Homo sapiens: one gene and its partners. The protein of the gene in region 1 interacts with the protein of each later gene in a pairwise test. Each region holds a gene or a part of one and is shown in the gene's direction. Other genes may lie near its edges. The genes, in order: HNF1B, ATF1 and CRX.

Region 1 (3,656 bases):
TGGAATCTCACTCTGTCACCCAGGCTGGAGTGCAATGGTGTGGTCTCAGCTCACTGCAACCTCCGCCTACTGGGTACAAGCAATTCTCCCGCCTCAGCCTCCCAAGTAACTGGAACTACAGGCACAGGCCACCACACCTGGCTAATTTTTTGTATTTTTAGTAGAGACGGGGTTTCACTATGTTGGCCAGGCTGCTCTCAAATTCCTGACCTCGTGATCTGCCCGCCTCTGCCTCCCAAAGTGCTGGAATTACAGGTGTGAGCCACTGGACCCGGCCTAGTGACTCTTTCAATATCCAATTCAGTGCTTGGTCTACATGCAGTCAAAGGAGGCTGGGAGAAGAAAATGTCTCAGGATTACTACCATCTCTCAAGCACATCCTACCTCTTGGGCCTGGGCTCCGGATCCCTGTTTCCCATTCTCCTGCTGATACACAGACTCCCTGCTCACCTATTTCCCAGGAAAAAAGCAAATAGTTCAGGGCCTGTCAAAGCACCCATACCCTTTGGGCTTAGCCAAATGCCTGGGCTATATTAGATGTTCAGTAAATAACAAAGAATGAATGAACGAACGAACGAATGAATGCAGAACCCGTGTTTTTTGATGCCTCCATTTTCCAAGCAGCACCCCAGATGCTTTTCTAGCTTACATTTCCTGGAGAACCCTCTTACCCATTCTGCAAGGTCGTTATTTTTATACCTGATTTACAAAGCAGAAAACTGAGGTTCAAAGATGGGTATGGATCTGGTCAAGTTCAAACAGATCATAAATTCCAGAGCTGGACTTCCAGACTGGCTTTCTCACTCCAAACTCATTAAACAACGTTCATCTTCCAATATCCACTTTTAAGCACCCATAATAACAACCCAAGGTTATGCAGGTATAAGGCTAAAGCCAGGATTTGTACTTGTATCTGTCTGATCCCAGTACTTCCTGTTGTCAAGGCAGACATGCCCCAAGGGCCTTGGGGATTACAGGTCAGGAACCCCAGGCTGGGACTTCTCGCGCCAAGAATCCTTCTGCATCTACTGCCATCTGTCCCTTCCAGAGCACATACGTCTCCCTCCTTCTCAACTCTTGGGTGCTGGCAAGTTATCTCTGAGTGGGTTTGTGCCTGAGTTCAACAATGCCCCGCTAGTCTGGAAACAAGACCACAGCAACCACTGACCTCAGTTAGAACAAGTGCAGGCAGGTTGTGAGCCAACTCCTGTTTCCACAGTGTTCTCTCCCCGCTGCTTGACTTCCTAGTTTATGGGAAGGTGAAGAGAGGGCCCCCAGAGCAGTAACTAGTCAGGGCACTGACAAGGGGGCAGGTGGGTGGCCTCATCATCTATCCCCTTCGGCTATTCCTCTCCCAGCTTCTTCACTGGGTGAGGAAGCAGAGTGTTCTGATGGTTGGGAGCATCGACCTGGGAGTTAGGCAGATCTGGGCTCAACATTCTACCACTTTCTACCTGTGTGACCTCAGAGAAATGTCTTAGCCTCTTTGAGCCTCTGTTTGCTCACCTGTAAAATGAAGATAATGATACCTCTTTCATGGGATCACTGAAAGGACTAACTGCACGAAGACCTGTAAAATACTTCACTCAGCGCATGTCCCAAAGGAAACACCCAGCCCATGGAAGCTGGGTCACTCTTGGCTTCCCCTGCTAGCACCCCTGAGCGGCTCTGAGTTTGGGAAAAGGGTCTTACGTGGCAAAGGGCATTTATTTCCCCGTGTTGAGGGGGTTGAAAGAAGTGCTCTTACATAGGGGTGAAGAGCACAAGCCTTGCTGTTGTGAGACCCCGGCCAACTTACTTATCACCTCTCCAGGCCACACTTCCCTCATCTGTAAAACCGGAATTATAATCATGACTTTTAATTAATGGAGCCACAATGAATCTCACATAAGTTCATGGTCATAGAAGTGACTTATCTGTCCTCACTGTCTCCACTTCCTCACCCTCAATTCTCTCTTGAGATCACTGCAGACTGGCCTTTATCCTCACGCCTCACTGTGTCCAGCTCACGATCCCCTCCATGCTGCTGAAACCAATGGTTACTTTTCAACCTCTGTCTCTGACACAGCTGATCTCTCCCTCCTTTTTTCCATGGGAGTTTGGGATACTACCATTCCTGGTTCTTCTACGGCACTGGCCACTTCTCATCTCCTCAGCTGGCAACTCATCTTCCCAATATTTATGTGTTGGAGGGCCCCGGGCCTCATTCTTTGGCCTCTTCTCATCTGTGCTCACTCCTGGGTGATCTCCTCCAGTCCCATGGCTTTAGGTCAAGTGTACACGCCGATGGTTCCTGTAATTCTGTGTACAGTCCGGTCTTCCCTACTGAGTGCTCACTCACAGATCCAGTGCTGCTTCGGCAGGGACAGACGCATGTCTAAAATATCTAATAAGCCTCTTGAATTCAACGTGCCTAAAATAGGAACTCTTCATTTTGCCCTATTTCATCCTATCAAAATTGCTTCCCCCATGGGCTTCTCCATTTCCAAAACTGGTACCAGTTGTTCAAGTGAGAGAGCTGAGAGTATCCCTGATTCTTCTCTCCACATCACATCAGTCTCTCAATAAGTTCTACTAGGGGACCCTCAGAATACATCCTAAATCTGACCTCTTCTCACACTCCCATCAGGACTGCCCTAGTCCCAGCCCAGGCCCCCTTGTCTCTCCCTGATCTCCTTAGGTGGCCCTTGCCTGTCTCCCACTTCCACCCTTGCCCCACTGGGGGCTGTTCGCCAGAGTGATCTCTTACAAAGAGACATCAAGCATGTCAATCCCCTGTCAAAACTCTCCAATAGCTTTCCATCACAACCAAACTAAAACAGAGACATACAGGACCCTATGTGATTATGCCCCTGCCAGTGTCGCCGTTCTCACCTCCTTCCTCCCTCCATCACCCGCTCAGCTTTAGCTGTGCCAGGGCTGAAGAGATCCCACTCCAGGACTCCTGCATTTGTGGTGTCTGCCTGGAGCTCTTTTTTTCTGTGCATTTTTACATGCTTGCCCCTTCACTTCATTCAGCTCAAATGTTACCATTTCAAAGAGGCCTCGCCTGATTCCCATATCTAAGTTAATCTCTTTTTCCTCAAGCTGCCCTAACCTCTATGCTTATTTTTCTATGGAGTGCTCATCTCCACCTAAAGTTGTAGTGTGTGTGTGTGTGTGTGTGTGTGTGTGTGTGTGTGCACGCATTTGTTTACTTGTTTATTATTCAAAGCCTTCACTAGGAGGTAAAGCCTGTGAAGAAGTGGGCAGGGTGTTGTTTACAGCTGCATCTCCAGTGTCTAAAAAAGTGCCAAGTACACAGTAGGCACTCAAACGTGTTAAATGAATTCACGATAATCACCTACTTCAAAGGGTCGACGTAAGAACTCGAGGCAGTGATGCTTGTGAAGCCCTTGGTATGGTGCCTGGCACACAGTAGGATGTCGATAAATGTTAGCTCTTACCATTATGTAACAAATCCTCTTAGAATAAGGATGTCCTTCACATTTGCCACAGCTACCACACCTTTCAGACGGAGGGCCCCGCGGTCTCTCAGAGATCTTCTGGGCCAGGCCCCCGTGGGGCTGCGTGTGCTGGGCCTCCAGTTCTAAGGGACCACAGTGCACCCCTTATCAGATGTTTGTGTTTAGACTCTGAAGGAGGCAAATAACTCT
Region 2 (2,937 bases), on another chromosome or scaffold:
GCTGGTCTCGAACTCCTGACCTCAGGTGATCTGCCCGCCTTGGCCTCTTAAAGTGCTGGGATTACAGGCATGAGCCACCATGCCTGGCCAATACTTCCGATTTCTATATGTATATAAACTTACATATGACTTCACAGAAATGTTTTAAGAGGACATGCACAGAACTGAGTATTTGCTCAAGCATTGTTTGTAATTTGAACTTAAATAAAAGAAGTCATGTGTCAGAAGTTAACCAGAGGACCCATAATTTCACTCTTTGGTATTTATTCAAGAGAAATGAAACCTTTCTACAAAAAGACTGGCACAAAAACATGCCTATGCAGCTAACCCTAGAAACATCGCAAGAGACTGGATACACAAATGGTGGTTATATTCATACAGTGAACTATGTCCAGCAGTGTGAAGGAACAAACCCCCATGCAGCAACATGGATGAACCTCAGATGGGCTGAGTGAAGGGACACCAGAGTACATAGTGTATGACACTCTTACATGAGGTTCTAGAATAGGAAAAAAACTAATCTCTGGTGATAAAAATCAAAACGATAGTTGCTTGGAAGGGGGCTGACCAGGAAGGGGCATGAGGGAACTTTCTGGGACAGTGGGAATGTTCTGTTGTCTTGACAGAGGTGTGGGTTATACAGGTATACACAATTGCCAAAACTGACTGAATTCTACACTTAAGATCTATGTATTCTCTGTGTGTAGATGATACTTTAAAGAGAAAAAAAGGTGACCACGGAAAATTACTGAAGAACATTTACCATTTAAAGAATGTGAAGTTTTTTCTAACATTGTTTTTTTAATGCTCATATTTAGAGAAGCTGCTCGAGAATGTCGCAGAAAGAAGAAAGAATATGTGAAATGCCTGGAAAACCGAGTTGCAGTCCTGGAAAATCAAAATAAAACTCTAATAGAAGAGTTAAAAACTTTGAAGGATCTTTATTCCAATAAAAGTGTTTGATTCCTAAGAAAGAAAATATTTTTGTGGACATGCATAAAAATTAAATGGATTTCCTAGTGGAGTTTTATAAATTAAAAGGTCAAAACTGAAGCTTTTTATTTAGGCTTTTCCAAATCAAGGATAAATATCTTACGCACGATATCTAGTGACAGAGGAGAAAGTGGAAAATGACCTCAAGGAAGCTACGGGCACAACTGGAAGCTTTGTAGAAATTAAACATATTCAAGGAGCAAGAAATGAACTTTCAGCAGTCTAAATTTTCTAAATAACCAATAGTTGCCAATCTAAAATGGCAGAGAAGATGAAATTTGATAAACTGAATTTTTTTTAAAAATCCATTTACCCTACAGGTTTGCATTTGTTTGCTGAAATTTACCTTTTTTTAGTTATATATATGTGTGTGTGTGTGTGTAATTTCTGCCAATAAATTCTAAATTACAAAGGTAAGAGAAAACCTAGTACATTACTAAATATATAAAGTATATGTTCTGATTATGTATACTTGTTCTAGTGTCAAGTCTTTTTAAGTGGGTTTTTAAAAGTTTGTTATTGGACTTGAATGGATTTTTGAGACTAGGTTAATTATTTTTGAGGTCTTATCCTAAAAGGCATCTAAGGTACATGAATGGAGTATGGTGATTTTATAACATTTTTTATCAGAATGGAAAAAGAACTGTTTAAAAGTTTGATACTTTTAAATAGTTGGTTTTTTTGCTTACTCTGGTAATGATTTTCTACAAATACATAATAAATTGTTTTTTTGAGTCTATATTCTGTATGCAGTTGAATATCCATTACTTATTCTGCTGTGCTTTAATAGAATGGAATGTTTACAGGCCCTTAAAATATTATTTTTAAAAAACCTTCTGAAGATACATACCAAAGTTTTTCCAAGAAGATTTTATAATCAATTTAATAATGTAAGGTTTATCAGATTCTATAATAGTATAGTTATTAAGGCAATTTTATGTTAGAGACTATTTTGTAATGTAGTGAGTGGTACCTTTATAAGAAAAGTGACTGCCAATATATTTTTATAGCTGATCTTTATAAATTCTAATGTTGAGTTTTTAATGATTATTTTAAATGTTTATATAGTTTAGTAAAATTTGCATCTCAAAGTATCATTTTTATATTATGGGACGTTTTCAGATTGGCTAATATTTGCATTGTAAATTTTGTATGCAGTTTATCTAAAATTCAAAAATACTGTCAGTACACCAGCGTTTAACATCTATATTCCAATTTGTATACAGTTTAAAATTGTACTGCAAAACTATTGTGTGCTCTTACACAGTATGCATCATATTGTTGTCTGTGAAATTAAAGGACATTTGATAGTCTACTGAATGTAAAATATAATGCTTGGTATATGAATGATAAGCTTGCTCCTGGCCATGCTGTTAATTATCCTAATGCTACGTAGAAATCTTCACTTAACTGATACATTTGTGTTTGACCCTCCTGATGAAATTTCTCATTAGAAGGGTCTTTTAAAATGGGACTCTGTTGACTTGGCAGCACTTTATGAAAAGAAAAAAAAGTTTGATCGCCAGGGGGATTACTTATATCACTTACTACCTTGTGTAAAGCCAGAATCTCAAACTGGTGGCCCGTTAGGCCTAAGAATATGAGGAGGTATGAGGTCACTGGGTTATGTCAAAAGACTTTTTCAACAGATGATAATATATTATTGGGTAGACACCGTGCTTGTTTACAACAGAGGTAGCCTAGCTCTTAGTGCCTTAACAGCTGGACATCTGCAAATATTTGTAAACTCTGCTGCCTTCAGACTTCTGGTGTAGGGCCTTGCTAACTAGACCCAGTTACTTACTCTAGCTGTATGAAACAGGTCAGGGCAAACCATTAATGGTTCCATAAATGCATAACAAATTATTTTCCTGGGTGTTTTTCTAATTGGAATCCAATGTGGGGCTTATCAAATTTTTAAGTGATTATAGTCCAAACATGAAA
Region 3 (3,656 bases), on another chromosome or scaffold:
ATTGTTGTCATTGTGAGATCTTGTATATAAAGCCTGGGCCAAGTGTCTGCCGAGTGATGAATTCCTGGACATTCTTTTTTTTTTTTCCTCCCCAGGAGACAGGTCCTCTTTCGATTGATTGATTTTTTTTTTTTTTTTTTGGGATGGAGTCGTGCTCTGTCGCCCAGGTTGGAATGCAGTGGTGCAATCTCAGCTCACTGCAGCCTCCGCCTCCCGAGTTCAAGAGATTTTTGTACCTCAGCCTCCCCAGAAGCTGGGACAACACCATGCCCGGCTAATTTTTGTATTTTTAGTAGACGGGGTTTCACCACGTTGGCCAGGCTGGCCTTGAACTCCTGACCTCAAGTGATCCGCCTGCTTCAGCCTCCCAAAGTGCTGAGCCACTGGCCTGGCCTGTTTTGTTTTGTTTTGAGAGAGGATCTTGCTCTGTTGCCCAGGCTGGAGTGCAGTGGCTGGATCATAGCTCACTGCAGCCTCCAACTCCTGGGCTCAAGCGATCTTCCCACCTCAGCCTCCCAGAGTGCTGGGATTACAGGTACGTGCCACCACGCCCAGCCCTCACTGGAGGCCCTTCTGTCATCAGCTGCCTCAGGTTGCTGCCAAACCCAGGGAAAGATTTCAGTGGATGTTCAATATTATTATTGTTATTATTCTCTGCTGACATCTTGTCTAGGCAGCACTTTATCATTATTATCAGCTGTTTGATCTGGGGCCCACACTTTCCTCCTGCTGAGCCTCCTCTCCCCTATCCGTTAAAAGGGATGATCCTGGCCAGGCACTGTGGCCCACGCCTGTGATTCCAGCACTTAGGGAGGCCGAGGTGGGCGGATCACCTGAGGTCAGAAGTTTGAGACCAGCCTGGCCAACATGGAGAAACCCAATCTCTACTAAAAATACAAAAAAAAAATTAGCCAGGCATGATGGCACATGCCTGTTGTCCCAGGTTGGGAGGCTGAGGCAGAAGAATCGCTTGAATCCGGGAGGTGGAGGTTGCAGTGAGCCAAGATTGCGCCACTGCACTCCAGCATGGGTGACAGAGACTCCGTCTCAAAATAACAACAACAACAAAAACAAAAACCCAGAAAGTGGTGATCGTAAATGTGAGCTTTCTTGGCTTTCCTGGAAGGTTAACTGCTTAGCCAGGCAATCTGACTCAGATTTGACGGCGAAGACAATGAAAGTGTGTGCTTTTGTTCCAGGCCCTGCAAATGGTCCCCAGTGGGGCAGGTTCACCAGTTTCCTTGTCTCCACTCTCTGGAGGTTCATATTTAACATTATTGGTTTTTGGAGAAGTGGGAGAGGACAGAGGGAACCCAGGTTAGGGGGCTGGGGGAATAGGACCTTCAGGAATTACTCTAGCCTTGAAATCCTGGATTCTCCACTGCCAGCCTGTGTGTGATCCCGGGTAAGTCACACTTTCGAGCCTGAAGATGTTCTCTAAACTGTAAGCATCAGGCAAAAGCAGTGTCTCATGCCTGTAATCTCAGCAATTTGGGAGGCTGAGGCAGGAGGATCTGCTCAGGCCAGGAGTTCAAGACCAGCCTGGGCAACATGGCAAGACACCTCTCTCTACACAAAAATTTAAAAAATTAGCTAGGCGTTGTGGCACACCTGTAGTCCCAGCTACTTGGGAGGCTGAGGTGGGAGGATGGCTTGAGCTCAGGAGGTCGAGGCTGCAGTGAGCTATGATTGTGCCACTGCACTCCAGCCTGGGTGACAGAGTGACATGCTGTCCCTAAGACCAAAACCAAAACCAAAATGTAAGCATCATAGTAATACAGTCTCTACCTCCCAAGGTTGTGCTGGGGATTTAATGACTACCTGTATAGAGAAGGCTTGTGTATTAGTTAACTATTGCTGGGTAACACTTATCCTAAAATTGAGCAGCTTCAAACAATAAACATTTCTGATCTCTTATAGTTTCCAAGGGACAGGAATCCAAGAGTGGCTTAACTGGATTATTCCGGCTCAGGGTGTTCCATGTGGTTGTGGTCAGATGTCGGCCAGGACTGAAGTCACTTAATGGCTTGGCTGAGGCTGGGGAACTAACCTCCATGGTAGCTTACTCTCATAGCTGTTGGCAGGAGGCCTCATTTCTTTGCCACATAGACCTCTCCGTGGGATGGCTTGAGCATCCTCACAACATGGCGGCTGGCTTTCCTTAGAGCTAGCCTTGGAAGCCACGCTCTGTCATTTCTGCAATATCCTGTTGGTTACACACGTCAGCCAGCTTGTTAGTAGGGACTACACAGGGCATGAATATCAGGGGGTAAGGATTATTGGGAGTTACCTTGGAGGCAGTTTGATTTTGGGGATTTAATGTAGCTGCTTTTGATTTTATTGTCAGCACTGAGCCTTCTCGTGACATTCCTACCAGGTTTTACTTGTTCTTTCTGCTTTTCTCCATGATCAATCTGCTATGGTCACACAGGGTGCCTTGTTTCTTCTCCAACAAGACCAAGTTGGAGACCCTGTCTTGCTCAGGGTGACGGTGTGAGATTCCAGCCTCCAAGCCTTTGCACCTGCTGTTTTTTTAATTTTTTTTTTTTGCCTGGAAATCTCTATTCCAGATCCACACAAATTCCTAGATGCCTCACCCACCCCAAATGCCTTCACTCTCATAACAACCTGTTTTATTTTCCTGGGAGTTCTTGAAACTTTCTGAAGGCTTTTTTTTTTTTTTTTTTTTTGACAGAGTCTTGCTCTGTTGCCCAGGCTGGAGTGCAGTAGTGCCATCTCAGCTCACTGCAACCTCCGCCTCCCGGGTTCAAGCGATTCTCAAGTAGTTGGGATTACAGGCACCCATCATCATGTCTGGCTAATTTTTGTATTTTAGTAGAGATGGGGTTTCACCATGTTGGCCAGGCTGATCTCAAACTCCTGACCTCAAGTGATCCTCATAACTCAGCCTCCCAAAGTGTTGGGATTACAGGCAAGAGCCCCTGCTCCTGGCCATGGCATCTTTATTAAAAAAAAAAAAAAAAAAAAAAAAAAAAAAAAAAAGGCAGGGCGTGGTGGCTCACGCCTGTAATCCCAGCACTTTGGGAGGCCGAGGCGGGTGGATCACATGAGGTCAGGAGTTCGAGACCAGCCTGGCCAACATGGTGAAACCCCATCTCTACTAAAAATACAAAAATTAGCCAGGTATGGTGGCAGGCCCCTGTAGTCTCAGCTACTTGGGAGGCTGAGGCAGGAGAATCACTTGACCCTGGGAGGCAGAGGCTGCAGTGAGCCGAGATCAAGCCATTGCACTCCAGCCTGGGGGACAAGAGTGAGACTTCATCTCAAAAAAAAAAAATTTTTTTTTCCTTGTTTGTTATTGGTTTCTCTAGGAACGGAACCAAGAAGTTCAATTCTATGAGAACAGAGAAGCTGCGGTCTTATTTCTTCCTATATTCCTAGTTCCTAGAGCAGGGAAGGCATTCAAAAAATATTTACTGAATGAACAGTAGAATCTCAACTTAAAATAAACAGAATCTGTCCCCCTCCTCATGTGAGGGATGAGAAGGAAAGGACAGTGAGAGGAACGGAAGAGTGGGAGCTCACAATAAACACCATCCATTTTTAATTCTTTTTCTTATGTTTCAAATATTTATTGGGGGTGCTGGGGACATGGCAGGAACCGAGATATTACCAGTCCCTGAACTCAGGTAACT

Evidence for each region.
Region 2: the proteins of HNF1B (region 1) and ATF1 interact in a two-hybrid assay, tested with the Homo sapiens proteins (one study listed by BioGRID).
Region 3: the proteins of HNF1B (region 1) and CRX interact in binary tests that used the Homo sapiens proteins (3 or more experiments, as listed by UniProt).

The regions. Positions count from the first base shown.
Region 1 is NC_000017.11:37,689,530-37,693,185, reverse strand, and holds part of HNF1B (hepatocyte nuclear factor 1-beta), read left to right. Parts: intron 1-3,656. UniProt on the Homo sapiens protein: Transcription factor that binds to the inverted palindrome 5'-GTTAATNATTAAC-3'. Binds to the FPC element in the cAMP regulatory unit of the PLAU gene. Transcriptional activity is increased by coactivator PCBD1.
Region 2 is NC_000012.12:50,818,817-50,821,753, forward strand, and holds the end of ATF1 (cyclic AMP-dependent transcription factor ATF-1), read left to right. Parts: intron 1-818; coding exon 819-963; 3' UTR 964-2,346; downstream 2,347-2,937.
Region 3 is NC_000019.10:47,824,869-47,828,524, forward strand, and holds part of CRX (cone-rod homeobox protein), read left to right. Parts: intron 1-3,656. UniProt on the Homo sapiens protein: Transcription factor that binds and transactivates the sequence 5'-TAATC[CA]-3' which is found upstream of several photoreceptor-specific genes, including the opsin genes.